Homo sapiens: one gene and its partner. The protein of the gene in region 2 purifies or fractionates together with the protein of the main gene of each other region. This does not show direct contact. Each region holds a gene or a part of one and is shown on either strand. Other genes may lie near its edges.

Evidence for each region. Proteins that work in one complex are often made in the same cells at the same time.
Region 1: the proteins of SCG3 (region 2) and CTH purify together in Homo sapiens (affinity purification with mass spectrometry; 2 studies listed by BioGRID and IntAct, with this or other methods). This does not show direct contact.

What each region holds. Positions count from the first base shown.
Region 1 is NC_000001.11:70,406,500-70,414,268, reverse strand, and holds the start of CTH (cystathionine gamma-lyase), read right to left. Parts: upstream 3,002-7,769; 5' UTR 2,854-3,001; coding exon 2,686-2,853; intron 1-2,685. UniProt on the Homo sapiens protein: Catalyzes the last step in the trans-sulfuration pathway from L-methionine to L-cysteine in a pyridoxal-5'-phosphate (PLP)-dependent manner, which consists on cleaving the L,L-cystathionine molecule into L-cysteine, ammonia and 2-oxobutanoate.
Region 2 is NC_000015.10:51,712,495-51,719,515, reverse strand, and holds part of SCG3 (secretogranin-3 isoform 1 precursor), read right to left. Parts: intron 6,184-7,021; coding exon 6,103-6,183; intron 109-6,102; coding exon 1-108. UniProt on the Homo sapiens protein: Member of the granin protein family that regulates the biogenesis of secretory granules. Acts as a sorting receptor for intragranular proteins including chromogranin A/CHGA. May also play a role in angiogenesis.

The DNA of each region.
Region 1 (7,769 bases), on a different chromosome or scaffold from region 2:
GTGCTGGGATTACAGGCGTGAGCCACCGCGCCCAACCTGAGCAGACATATTTTATAGGGCTCCAGGATATCCTTACCCCTCCCCACCATCACCTTCTTACCATGACCTGCAGCTGTACCCTGCAGATTAAAAAAAAAAAAGTTTGGATTCACGTGGCTTCTGCCACAGAAAGGTACCTCCCGTTTCTCATTCAGCTCTTCAAATTCCCTTTAGTGGTCTTAGCTGATTTTTAAAAAGGGCCGGGCGCGGTGGCTCATGCCTGTAATCCCAGCACTTTCAGAGGTGAATCACCTGAGGTCAGGATTTCAAGACCAGCCTGGCCAACATGGTGAAACCCCGTCTCTACTAAAAATAAATAAATTAGCTGGGCATGGTGGCGGGCAGCTGTAATCTCAGCTACTCGGGAAGCTGAGGTAGGAGAATTACTTGAACCCAGGAGGTGGAGGATGCAGTGGGCCAAGATCGCACCACTGCACTCCAGCCTGGGCAAGAGAGCAAGACTCTGTCTCAAAAAAAAAAAAAAAAAAAAGATATTAAGCAGAGTTTTTGTGGATTTAACCATCCCTGCTGGCTTCCTGGAAACATTTAATTATTAATATCACACCTGAATGGTAAACTTTTGCACTAAGTTCCAAAGCTTGGGCAGCTACACTTTCATTAAACCCTACACAAGAAACGAACTGCATGTTTGAAAGAGAGGCTGTGAGCCGGGCGCCGTGGCTCACACCTGTAATCCCAGCACTTTGGGAGGCCAAGGCGGGTGAATCACGAGGTCAGGAGTTCAAGAGCAGCCTGGCCAACATGGTGAAACCCCGTCTCTACTAAAAAAAATAAAAAATGAGTCAGGCGCAGTGGCAGGCGCCTGTAATCCCAGCTACTTAGGAGGCTGAGGCCGGAGAATCGCTTGAACCCGGGAGGCGGAGGTTGCAGTGAGCCGAGATCGCACCACTGCACTCCAGCCTGGGTGACAGAGTAAGACTCTCTCTGAAAAATAAAAAAAAAAAAAAAAGAAAGAAAGAAAGAGAGGCTGTGTACATATTTTGATTCTAAAATACAGTAAAGAGTATTCTAAACCAGTTGTAGAAATGGCCTTAGAACTGTATCTCACAAAACAAGGGACTGTCTGTAAGGATTTTCCTCAACTTATATAACACACTGAAGTGGTTTCCAAAGCATAATCAAGGCTTTGGACTTACAGACTTTAACTAATTCTTACAAATCTCAGCAACTTTTAAATTCTCTAAGATCCATCAAGTATGCCACCAAAAGGGGGAAAAAAGCTATGTGATTAACAAAGAGGGCTCCTTCGTAGGCTTTACAGATCATTCATGTATGACTCTGTGTCAGTTCCTTTTCTATAAAAAGTACATAATACCTGTCCTGCCTTCTGACCTGGTTGTTGTGAGGATCAAATGGAAATAGTGTAAATGTGAACATCATGAAAAAACAAATTACCATCGAGTAATTATTATGTACTATACAGCCTTAAATACATCTCAACAACTTATGTGGTAGATACTATTATTATCCCCATTTATACAGGATCAGTCAGAGGTTTTGATAGGTTAACTAACTTGCCCAAGGTCCCCCAGCTCAGAAGAAGTGGTGTCAGAATGCAAACCTAGCCTTTGACTATAAGATTTGTGTTCTCTTTTTCTGTTGTTGTTTGAGTTGGAGTTTCACTCTTGTCACCCAGGCTGGAGCACAATGGTGAGATCTTGGCTCACTGCAACCTCTGCCTCCTGGGTTCAAGCGATTCTCCTGCCTCAGCTTCCCGAGTAGCTGAGATTACCCGCCACCATGCCCAGCTAATTTATTTATTTTTAGTAGAGATGGGGTTTCACCATGTTGGCCAGGCTGGGCTCGAACTCCTGTCCTCAGGTGATCCACCCGCCTCAGCCTCCCAAAGTGCTGGGATTACAGGCGTAAGCCACTGCACCCGGTCATGAGTTGTGTTCTTAATCACTAAGCCACAGTGCTTAAATGACGCAATAGGCTAAATTGTTACTAGCATTATTAGAGATAGCATAGTGTAGCTGAGTGCCTAGGAGTTGGTTCCTAAAGCAACCTCAAGTTTCTAAAGTTTGAATTCCATCTCCAATACTTACTAGTCTAAGGCTAGTTACTTAACTCCCTAAATCTCAGCTTCTTTATTGGGAAAAAATGAGAATTCGGTTCAGACTAGGGTTGTTGTTAGGATTAGATGAGACAATACATGTAATACACATGATATATACGAGCACGTATTTGGCATATAGTAGGTACTCAATAACTATTCATACAGCTACTGGAAACAATCTTAATTCTAGTCAAGTTATCAGACCCTTAATATTTTTTAAGCTGACTCCGTACTACATCTTTAAAATTTATGCTGCTAAAGGTAACTCAAAAAAGTTATGACCTTCGATTTTTAATTGCAAATTTGTCAAAATCACCTGAATTTCAGGCCAAATCTAAATGGCAAGCTGGACAAACGGCTCCTTCCAGTCCTGCTTATCAAAAGAAATACGATCACTGGACCATCCGATACAAAGCTGTGCTGCAAGAATTACAGTGTAGAAACATCTTTCGGTTGCCTTCCTAATTTATAAGTCATATTATAAATTACTTACATGCCTTTCAAATTCATAAGCCGTATCTCTTTTACCGCCCAACTGTGGACAGCCCCAGACAGACCCAGCTCACCGAGTGCTGGCCAGGCGCCCCTTGCTTGAACGTGGTGGACAGTGAGATGGGGGGCACTACAGCCCTGGAGGTCCATTGCTCTGGATCCTGGCCCACATGGATCGCCTGCGTGGCGAAATGTTGGAAGTGTGGCAGGAAACCTTGTGAGGAGGCGTCTTTTTCCTGCATGCTGAACCGCGAAAGAAGAAGAGAGGAAAAGAACACCGAAGATATAACCAGTCGAAGCCGGGTGTCCGGGGTTGGGAGAGACAGAAGGATCAGGCGAGAAGGAGCTAAAGCACGCAGGTAGAGCCGACGGCGAGCGCACTAAAGCGGCACACAGCGATTGTTGGGGTGGATTTTATTAGCGGGTCTGCAGTCTCACGATCACAGTGGGGCGGGACCAGCGCGGCCCATTGAGCGCAGGCCCGACGCGTCTCCCGCTCCTTATTGGCTGACAGCAGAGGCGTTGCCTGAAACGTCACCGCGACCGCCCCACCCAGTGCACAAAGCGGAGTGAAGCTGGAGTCCCTGGGTCCAAGTGGTGTTAGTCCCTGCGGGCGAAATTCCTGAGTACCCGTCCTGAGGAGGCTGCCATGCTGGCTCCTGAGAGCCACCCGGGCGTCTCTGTGACCTCAGGCCGGAGGTTCGCCCGAGACGTGGCGGAAAGCTGGCTTAGTGTTGAAACCGGGTAACTGTAAACAGACCACATAAATAGCCTTCTTTTACTGTGGTAGTTACCTCTGACCACCATCCTTTGCCCTGAGGGCGGTGCTAAAAGACGTAAGCCACAACGTGGAGGGTGGTTAAGAAAACAGTTGCCCAAGCCGCCCAGTTTGCAGCTTGGATTCTCATCAGTCACAGCTTGCGTTTTAGGTACACTGAACTCTGTAATGACCCAGTGCTTACGATGACGAAACGATGACTAGAAGTGAAGGTTAAATTGTTCGTAAGACATAACGAAGCTACTGTAGTGAGGACGTCTATGCACAACTCTGGCAGCTTCCTAAAAGTTAGTCAATCTTGAGCTTTTTCAAGCATCATTATCTTCTTTTAAAGTACAGAGAGAAACTCCCCCTAATGAGAAAGATAATGTGGCTTTGAAATACTTACTGGAGCCTAACATCCTTACACAAAATGCTTTTGCTTTTACACAACAGCAACATCCCTGCAGGAAAAAGGATTGTTTACCACTCACCTGCGCCCAGAGCCCTACTCTCAGAAGAATCACTGCTTTAAAACAAAAATCTCCCTGTTCCCTAAGCAATACAGACTTGACCTACTTACTATTGTGGCTGTTTTCTAGCACCAGGAAATTTGGGGATATTTCTGTTGTTGCAAAATATTCGCTAAAGATCTAAAACTTTATTAAACAAATTAAGAACAAGGAGAATAAGGAATAAACAGCTCTTAAAATTTACAGTTTGAAAGAAAGATATGAAGAGAAAGAATGAGGCAATTTGCTTTTCAAATTAGCTTTAGGGACATTTAACCCATTAAGCACTAGAGGAGTGGTGCTTGAGGGCCTACAAGCTTTTAGAATCCTACCAAACTTTGTATGGCTGGGGGAAAAAATGGATAGACTTCAAAACACTAATGTATATTAATACATATTTAATTAATATTTTTCTTTTAAAAATATAACATCAACTGCAACTCACCTCAATATTTATGTATAACTATAGGTGGGTATTTTTGTGTAATATGATATGGCATTTAGGGGCCAAAAGGGTCTAAAACAGTTCCAATTAGTTTTACCTCCTAATATTTGCTGACAAACCCTGAGTTGCATAAATACAGACATTTTATTTAGTGTACTGTAATAAAGAATCATTCAGAAGACAGCACTAGGCTGGGTGCATTGGCTAACGCCTATTAATCCCAGCACTTTGGGAGGCCGAGGTGGGCGAATCACCTGAAGTCAAGAGTTCGAGACCAGCCTGGCCAGCAGGGTGAAACCCCATCTCTACAAAAAACACAAAACTTAGCTGGGCGTAGTGGTGCACACCTGTAATCCCAGCTCCTTGGGAGCCTGAGACAGGAGAATCGCTTGAACCCAGGAGGCGGAGGTTGCAGTGAGCCGAGATCATGTCACTGCACTACAGCCTGGGCCACAGAGTGAGACTCCATCTCAAAAAAAAAAAAAAAAAAGATAGCACCCAATACAAATGCTATAAATCAGGCCTTTTTTACTCTCTTAAACTGAGAAAACTTTATTGGATGCAGCTTAATATGTATCAAGGATTTAAAATATCCCCTTTCTATGACTCAGCAATTTCTTTTGTAGAAAATTTTACTTGCAGGAATTTATCCTTTAGATATATTCTTAATATGTGTACAGAGATGAGCAAGGATGCTTTTTAAACCTACGTTACTATTTTTAATAGCAAAAGAGTGAAAAATGGCTTAATTATTCATTCTTAAAAGACTGGTTAACTGGTTATGATACTACTCTGTGATGGCTACAGTATGGCCAAGAAGCAGGAAGAGATTGAGATGTGCTGGTATGTCAGAGTCTCGCTCTGTTACCCAGGCTGGAGTGCAGTGGTGCCATTTCGAATCACTGCAACCTCTGCCTCCAGGTTTCAAGAGATTCTTCTGCCTCAGCCTCCCAAGTAGCTGGGACTACAGATGCAGCCACCATGTCTGGCTAATTTTTGTATTTTTAGTAGAGATGGGTTTCACCATGTTGGCCAGGCTGGCCTCGAACTCCTTGCCTCAAGTGATCCACCAGCCTTGGCCTCCCAAAGTGCTGGTATTACAGGCATGAGCCACCACACCTGGCCTATTGATCTCTAATATCTAAGACAGCAAAGCAAAGTAACGTATACATCATGCTTCCACTTTTTCAAAAGAATATATACTATGTTGCATTATTTTCAGACAGATATTTATGATTTCATATGTATAAAAATCCTTCTGGTCATAGAGACTATGGATCTGCAGTGGAAAGGTGATTTTCTTTACATTTTATTCTCTTTTGTGTTCAAGTTTTATATCATGGGCACATATTACCTTTTCAACAATAATAATACTACCAAAAACCCTAATTTAAACATTTTAGAAAGACAACTGTATTTAGAAAAAAAGCTTTTTAAATGATTAAATGATAGCCACTTTAAATCCAATAAATGGTATATAGTTTGAGGTGTGTGCTAATTTTTCATATAAATTATGTTGCATACAACAAAATATCATAACACTTACAGAAGAATTATTAATTCTTCTTGGGAAGGAGATTCAGCAAAAGCAGATATTTTAGAGGAAATGGGAAACTTCTCATTTTTTATATTTCTTTACTGTTTGATCCTTTTATAAAACACAGAGTACATTATTTTATAATAAGTACTTCTTAAACACTATGAAAATAGCACTGTACTTCTTGTGTTTATGCACAAAGACCTCTACTATTCTCATTAAAGGCAGGCTATGAATAAAGATACCGTGACTGAATATCAAAACAGTGCAATCGGGACTTGGGAGGGATGTTCATAAAATATATTATTATTATTATCAAGCATAAACATACGCAATTATTAGATCTGTTTTGTTTTACCTCAAAAGAAAACAATTTGTTCATCCTTGGGCTTTTGTCAATGAAATAATGAGAATTATGAAGGGAATTTGGGGATCAGGGGAAAGAAGATATTACAATATAAGATCTAAATTTGGTAGACTTGTAGATTACTACAATGGGCCAAAGCCTGTCAGATAGCACTTTTTTTTTTTTTTTTTTGAGACAAGGTCTCAGTCTTCCCCAGGCTGGAGTGCAGTGGTGCCATCTTGGCTCTCATTGAAACCTCTGCCTCCCAGGTTCAAGTGATCCTCCCACCTCAGCCCCACAAGTAGCTGAGACTACAGGCATGCGCCACCATGCCAGGCTAATTTTTTGTGGGTTTTTTTTGTAGAGATGAAGTTTTACCATCTTGCCCAGGCTGGTCTTGAACTCCTGAGCTCAAGCGATCTACCTGCCTTGGCCTCCCAAAGTGCTAGGATTACAGGCATGAGCCACTGCACCAAGCCAGATAGCACTTATGACACCTACCTTCACTTCCTGGTGGAAACAATTTTTTAAAATAGTAACAAAAAGATATTATGCAATCATATCAATTATGTTTTGATATGGCATAATTGAAAATTATATGTCTTGAGAATAAAAAGGTCTAGATATTGTTGATGGAATTATTAAAGTTAATATCAAGAGACACTGGAGAGCAAATTTCTAGCACAATTGCTTTCTTTTAGTGATAGATACAAAGAAGATAAGCGACATACTCATATTAATATAGCGAGTATCTAGGCTGAGAATTGAGTACAGCTTCAGACATTTAAGATGAAGAAGTAATCCCAAAATCATTTGGATGCATTCCACAATGATGTAAAAGGAGTCAAATATGACTGAAAAACATAATATAAATAACAACTCAGACATAGCAGTTAAGCACCTGAAGTTTGGAGTCAGAATGCTTGGGTTTGAAGCTCACCTCTGGAACCTGCTGTCTCTGTGACCTTGAGGGAGCAATTGACTTAATCTCTGTAAGTCTCACTTTCTTCTGTAAAATGGGTAAAATAATACTTGGCAGTTCTCAAAAATAGGTTCTTAAAAGCATCTGGCAGGCCAGGAAAGGGGTATAAGGCAAGTAGAATAAATGGGAAGCACTTAGGTCAGAGAGCTACTTTTGATATTTTTCTATCAAAACTGATATTTGCAGTACCTTTGAAGAGGAATACTATGCAGAGGTCGTGTGACCCAATACAGAAAGTAAGCAATATCTTTTGCAATGTTCATAAGTGGCACAGAGATTTAAAAAAAAAAAGATAGGTAATTTGCACTATCCAGGCATGCAGATGTCTTATTCAACTAGTAATGCAGCAATTGAAAAGCTCTTGACTTTCGCTTATAACTTTATATCAGAGAGAAAACATTTTAGGGGGAGCAATTCTCCATGTTGCGGGACTGTTTGGCTAATTGCAGGGCATTCATCTTCCCTGGTGGCTAGTTGCACAACCCCACATATTTCCAATCACAAAACAACAACTCCAGTTGAGAACAATGATAAAGGAACTAACGGGGTTGCTCTGAATTTAAGCTTACCAATAAAAAG
Region 2 (7,021 bases):
TATAAATGCGCTTGATGGCCTCGGCTTCTTCCTTGTCAAGGATGCCTTTCTCCACATAAGCATCAGCTTGTTTATTGATGAAGTCTCTCATCTTTGAAAGGTCATAATCTGGAAAATATTATTAGAGCATAATGAGCAAAGATCAGGAAAGGCCAATCCCATTACAGTGATTACCATTAACTGAGAAGCATTTTATACAATAACACAATTACCATTCCCCATCTTTCACATCGGGAGGCATTTTAATTCTTGGCATTTGTGTAGTACTTTGCAGTATAAAATAATATTTACATGTATTATCTCATCTGTGCTTCATCACAACCCTGTGAGATGTTCAGGTGGGTCATACCATCCCCATTTGACCAAACAGGAAATAGGCTCATGACCAGGGCTTTGCAAATTTTAATGTTTATACCAAACACCTGGGGCTATTGGGAAGTGGCAGATTCATATTCAGTAGGTCTGGGGTGAGGATCCAGGTTATGCATTTTAAACGGCTGTCAGGTGATACTGATGCTGTTGGTCTAGGAACCACACTTCGGGGTTAAGTGCCTTGTTCAAGGTCACATAGGTAGTAAAAGTTATGATCAGAACCGGGTGTTCTGACTTCCTGACTTCCTGACTTATACTAGGTTTAAGTCCATGTTGATGTGACAACCCACTTTTTTTTTTCAAATTAAGAGTTACTTTATTTCATGCTGTTTGAATTGTATGCAAGGAGCAAAAAGCCAAACTGTAAACTCTTTTTGGTTCCTCTGTCCTCCTTAAACAAACAAACAAACAAAATCTATATACATTGTCAAAACACCCACCAAAAATAAAGATTTCCAGGTAAGGAGGCTGCCTATGACACCTTTCTGAAGCCTTTTAAAAACCCCCATTTTCCCTTGATCCTTTAAGTATTAGGCAATAACAGCTGTAAATGACTAGACAGAACGCTGCTTTCTGTTAGTTGGTGAGGAGAAGAGAAAGGAGAGAGTGGGTATAAAAGGGTGGTTTAGCAGCCACCCTTAGCGAGCCTGAATGTAATCTGAGCCTGGGTCACTTGGGTATCCTTAAGCTCTTATGAGAAAGGAAAACGAACCATGAAGGACCTCTCTACAATCACTAAGTGAGTGAGGCTTAGACAGGGCTTATATCCTCTCTGGCAAGCAGGACATCTGCTCCCTGTTAGGGCACAGCCATGAGGATTGAAAGGGAAATCCCAGCACTGGACACTTTACAGCCATCACCTTAATTGCCCCCCACAAAACCCCACGAGGTTATACCCTATGACATCTGTCTGTCTGTCTGTCTGTCTGTCTGTCTGTCTGTCTATCTATCTATCTATCCATCCATCCATCATCTAACTATCTATATAGGTTTTCGTCCATGATTCCTGGCTTATAACTCCCATATCCCTTGTTTCAGCCTTTTGTCATAATGTTAGGGCACTTTGGGCCTCAGAAGAAGGCCTCAGGAAGCAGAATCTTTCTCTCTGACCTGCCCTCCTTTCACCCAGCCAAGGCAGGACTCTAATCTGATTGTGGGTCATAACACCCTTGATCCATAGAGGGTCCTACCCTGTACCCTGGAGGAAGGAATGTTGCACAGAGAGGCCAAGAAGAATCTGCAGAGATAGGCCTTACTGGGTTTAGACCATGTCCTTTTTGTCCAATCACATTCCTACATGGTTGTCAATCATGCCTATCCAATGAAGTCTCCATGAAAGGCCCAAGAGGACAGGGTTCAGGAGCTTCCAGATAGGTGAACACGTGGAGGCTGACAGGAAGGTGAACAAAAACTGATTCACATGCTGGAAGGGTGTTGCACCCCAGCTCCACAAGGATGGAAGCTCCTGCACTTCAGACTGTTCCAGACTTCACCCTATGTATCTCTTCATCTAGTTGTTTATTTGTATCCTTTAAAATATCCTTTTAATAAACCAGTAAATGCATTTCTCTGAATTCTAGCAATCCTTTTTTTTTCTTTTTTTCTTTTTTTTTGACAGGGTCTCACTGTTTTACCCAGGCTGGATGCAGTCGTATGATCATGGCTCACTGTAGCCTTGGACTTCTGGGCTCAAGTGATCCTCCTGCTTCAGCCTCCTGAGTAACTTGGGACTACAAGCGCACACCACCACACCTGGCTAATTTTTTTTTTTTTTTTGAGACGGAGTCTTGCACCGTTGCCCAGGCTGGAGTGCAGTGGCGTGATCTCAGCTCACTGCAAGCTCCACCTCCCGGGTTCACGCCATTCTTCTGCCTCAGCCTCCTGAGCAGCTGGGACTACAGGCACGTGCCACCACGCCCAGCTAATTTTTGTATTTTTAGTAGAGATGGAGGTTCACCATATTGGCCAGGATGGTCTCGAACTCCTGACCTCATGATCCACCCACCTCGGCCTCCCAAAGTGCTGGGATTACAGGTGTGAACCACTGTGCCTGGCCCACCTGGCTAATTTTTAAATTTTTTGTGGAGATGGGGTCTCGCTATGTTGACCAGGCTGGTCTCAAACTCCTGGCCTCAAGTGATCCTCCCACCTTGGCCTCCCAAAGTGCTGGGATTACAGGTGTGAGCTACCATACCAGGCCCACTCTAGCAAATTAACTGAACCCTAAGAGGAGGCTGTGGAAACCGAAACTTGAAGCCAGTCAGCCAGCTGTTCCAGAGGCCTGGACATGCAACTGGTGCAAAGGAAGGGGCACTCTTTTGGGACTGCGCCCTCACCCTGTGGTGTCTGAGGCTGACTCTAAGTAGATAGTGTTGGAATTGAATTGAATCAGCGGACAACCAGCTAGTGTCGGCTGCAGAATTGATTGCTTGCTTGGTGGTGGGGAGAAACCCCCACGCATTTGGTCACAGAAGTCTTCTGTGTTGATTGTTGTGTTGAGTGAGAGAACAGGAGAAAGCACATTGTTGCTTTTTCCACACTCATGGGTAAGCATTAGTATCCTCATTTCAGAGATGAAGAAACAGAAAAGGGGGTAAGTTACTTGCTCAGGTAGTGGTAGAGTCAGGTTCTGAATGCTGGTCATTGATTGACCATTCCATAGCCTTGTAGTACTGACTATAAAACATCTAACAGGTACAAAGCAAATGTTCAATAAATGCTCATTTTTATTTTTGTTTTTCACTTTTCCCATTCTCTCAGGCACGAAGTAGAGAACGAAGCTGAACATACATTTTGCAGGCACCGCACCTAAGGCGATGATTCCTTTATTCCTGACCCCTAAGGCACAAAGGGCACTTCTTGTTTATTCCTGGTTCATTAATACTGCCTCTGCAGAATAGGCTGCAGTGTCAACATCTTTAATGGAATAAAAGGCAGACTCCCGCTAAGTGATTTTAATGTGCATCAAAGTTTGAAAACCACTGCCTTGCTGGGCGCGGTGGCTCACACCTGTAATCCCAACACTTTGGGAGGCCGAGGCAGGCGGATCAGGAGGTCACGAGATTGAGGCCATCCAGGCTAACACGGTGAAACCCCATGTCAACTAAAAATAAGAAAAATTAGCCAGGCATGGTGGCGGGTGCCTGTAGTCCCAACTACTTGGGAGGCCGAAGCAGGAGAATGGCGTGAACCCTGGAGGCGGAGCTCGCAGTGAGCGGAGACCGTGCCACTGCACTCCAGCCTGGGCGACAGAGCGAGACTCTGTCTCAAAAAAAAAAAAAAGTGCAGACTCCCAAAGACAGATGTGAAGAGGTCCAGTGATTTGAATGGACAAACAGGCAAATATTTTGCTTTCTTTTGAAAAGGAAAAATTGTTATCTTTATGACACGGCTATTACTGTGTGCAGTGGGAAAACCAGCATGGTGCAAAGGAAAGGCCCTTTGGTCTAATGCCAACTCTGCCCTAGCTGGGGGTTAGGAGACATAAGCCAGTAGCCATCTTGCTAACCTTAAAAGAAGTTTTAAGGTTGTAAGGCTCAAAGGAGAGAAGGGCTGTGATTCGCTTTTTAAAAGCATATTTTTTTAAGGCTACATAAGATTTTCTCATTATCCTCACTATCACATCACATGGACCTCCCTTTCCTGGGTTTGGGAAGGGGATTCAGGTCACCCAGTCCCTTACCAAACAAAGGGTGGCAACAATGGTTAAGAAAGGTCAGAACTAATAGTAATTCTCCCTGCTTATACAGCTGCAGCCACTGCATGACCCTAGGACCCAGATCCCCCACAGGCTTTGAGAAGATGACCCCAAGTCAAGCCGAGCGCATATGAGAGCAGTGGAGAAAGAGCTCTGTTTCTGTCTTCAAGAGGGCATACTGCATATTTCCCAGAGACAAAAGGGAGCATCGAACCCAATGCCAGTTTGCTAACAGAGCCTTCCATATGCAAGCACCAGAGTTCTATGCTTCACCAGGTTGGTCATTTCTGGAATGGGAACATTGAATTGCAAGATGTTGTTGATTATGACCAGGAGTCTGATTCATATGCTAATCAGTGAAAACAGTAACAAATACTCCAAATTGATGTACCATACAATTTATCATGGCTTTGGGATGTATTTTGGCACACAGTGTACTACAGTGATTCTAAGATGAACATTTTAATTTTAAAGTCTTTGCAGTCATTGATGGCATGTTGTAATTTAATGGCACATAAAACAATGGTGCATTTTTAATCAATGACAGATTCGATGAAATATGGTTCATGTAGATTTTAATGTAACTGACAGCCTGGAAATTCAAATCATTTTGAACCAAATAAAGTATGCATGAACATCGATAATTATTGCCATCATCACTCAACTTAGAAGACCTAAGCTACCAGGGTGCTGAAAATACCTCTTTCTCCCTCTGTGCTGTATCTCAGCGGTTTGCAAACTTGGCTGCACGCTGGAATAACCTGGGGAGTTGAAAAAATACTGATGCCAGAGCTGTGTCCCCAGAATTTCTGATTTAGTGGTGCTGCAGTGCAGCCTGGGCAGTGGGATATTTAAGAAGTTCCCCAGGTGATTTGGATGCACTTTAAAGTTTGAGAAGCATTACTTGTTTCTTAGGAAGGCATCACTTTGCAACTGCTCTGGCCAGATACCTGGGAATCGTGTCAGAATCCTCCTTCTCCACATGGCTCTTGAGTTCCTCCCTTCCTTTTTATCTCCTCTGTTGTCCCCTGGTTTACAGCCCCATATTTCTGCTCCAGATCTCTCTGTCTTACCTCCTTATCTCTCTGCTGCCTTCTGGGGTCTTATTTTTTCAATCTGTAGTCACACTGCTGCCAGATGGATTTCTCAGCTCTTAACCTAATTAGGCCCCAATTTAGGCTCCCTTGGCTAAAACCAACCTTCTCTGAAGAGTACATAAATGTCTTCCTGGCATGGCTACTGCCCACTTCCCAACCCTATATGCTGCTCTTCTCCACAAACATCCACTGTTCCTGGGGACATGAATGGCTCCAGTTCCCAGAACCACCCCTCTGTTTTGTCCCTTTATGTCTTGGTACCTAGTGTTCGCTCTGCCTCCATCTCTCCTCACTCGGCAGATTCATCCTTAACTTTCCAGAGAAGACTTGTGGCCCTTCTCTCAACTGTCTCTGTCCTAGTATGAAGATCCATCCCATCTTCTCACCTCCTTGGCAGTAACACACCTATCCATGACATCACTGAGCAGGGCCAACCATAGCTCTAATGACGCTGTGCATTCCTTGGGCGGGACATCTCTGGCACTTAGAACAGGGCCTGGTTCTGTGTTTTGCTTTATGTAAGCGAGTGACTGCTTTTGTGACTGCAGGGTGCACAAAATTTGTGCTCAGAAAATGCCTTTGTTTAAAATACTCCAAGAAAGGGGGGCTAGATAAAACAAGACTGGCAACATTTGATAATTATTGAAGATGGGTGCTGGAGACACAGGGATCCATTATGCTATTCGTTCTACGTTTGCTTGACATTTTTCCTAATAAAACGTAAAAGAAAAGAAAACGCCTTTGCTTGAAAGGCTAATTTGAATAATAAGAGAAATGGAGGTTCTGTTCCCCTCTGTATCTGACAGGTGACTTCAGTCTTTTTTGGGCTCTGCGGGGAGACTTTAGCACAGTCAATTTGACTGTGGGAATTTTTATATAACAAGAGCCCCTGACAAATGGGTGAAGTTTGCAATGTACAACCACACTTGGTCCTACCTTCTTTATTTCCCTTTTTGTCATGTTTCTTCAACCATTCAATATTTTTTCTGATGGCTTCCAAATAGGCTTCTGTTTTTCCTGGAAGAGGTAAGAGAACTATATCAAACACTCAGGAAATATCACTACATCTCATTTTAAAGACCACACGTATGTTCAGAACCACAAATATTAGACTTATGCAGCATTTGCAAGGTTGTTTCCCTAACTAGGTAATGTACATATTTGTATGTGTCTATGTGTGTTTGTGTGTTGAGGGGTTTAGGTCAAGGAGAGCAGGTGCGGATGAGGTTCCAGGAGGAAGAATCAAGTTGGTAAGTGTCAAGGGGCATGATTCCCACACACAAATAAATCCACCTTGATGTCCTGGCAGAGAAGAGTTTTGATTCAGTTTACTAGATAGATGGGTCCTTAGATTAGTTCATTTCTGGTTAGGGATGGTTCTTCCAAACTGAGGAGCATCATCAAGCCAAGGACTTGAATGAGAGTGGCAGATACTTAAAGATTCCATCACTTCAGTTAAAAGTCCAAATGTGTGGCTTTGTGTAAGCAGCTCTAAGTCTTCTGCCCAATTCTGGCAGGGGGCGGGCAAAAACTTAGACAAAGAGGCGACCAGTGCCTCACTTCAAGGTTTGGATGGCAAACCTTAGAACTGGCTCTAATAAAACTCCCCAGGATGTAAACACTGTTCGATGGGCCTCAAGTGTGGCATGAGAATACCAGGCATCACTCATGCACCTACTCTGTGATGCCCTTTACCTGTACTGATGTCTGCAAGCGGATATTACCATCCACTGAGAGATGAGGAATCTGGGGCTCAGAGAGGCGAAGTGAGTAGGCTAAGGCTACACAGGAAATAACAGCTGGCATTTGGACTCTGATCTGCTTAGCTTCCGCTACCTGCATTCCCTGCAGGATA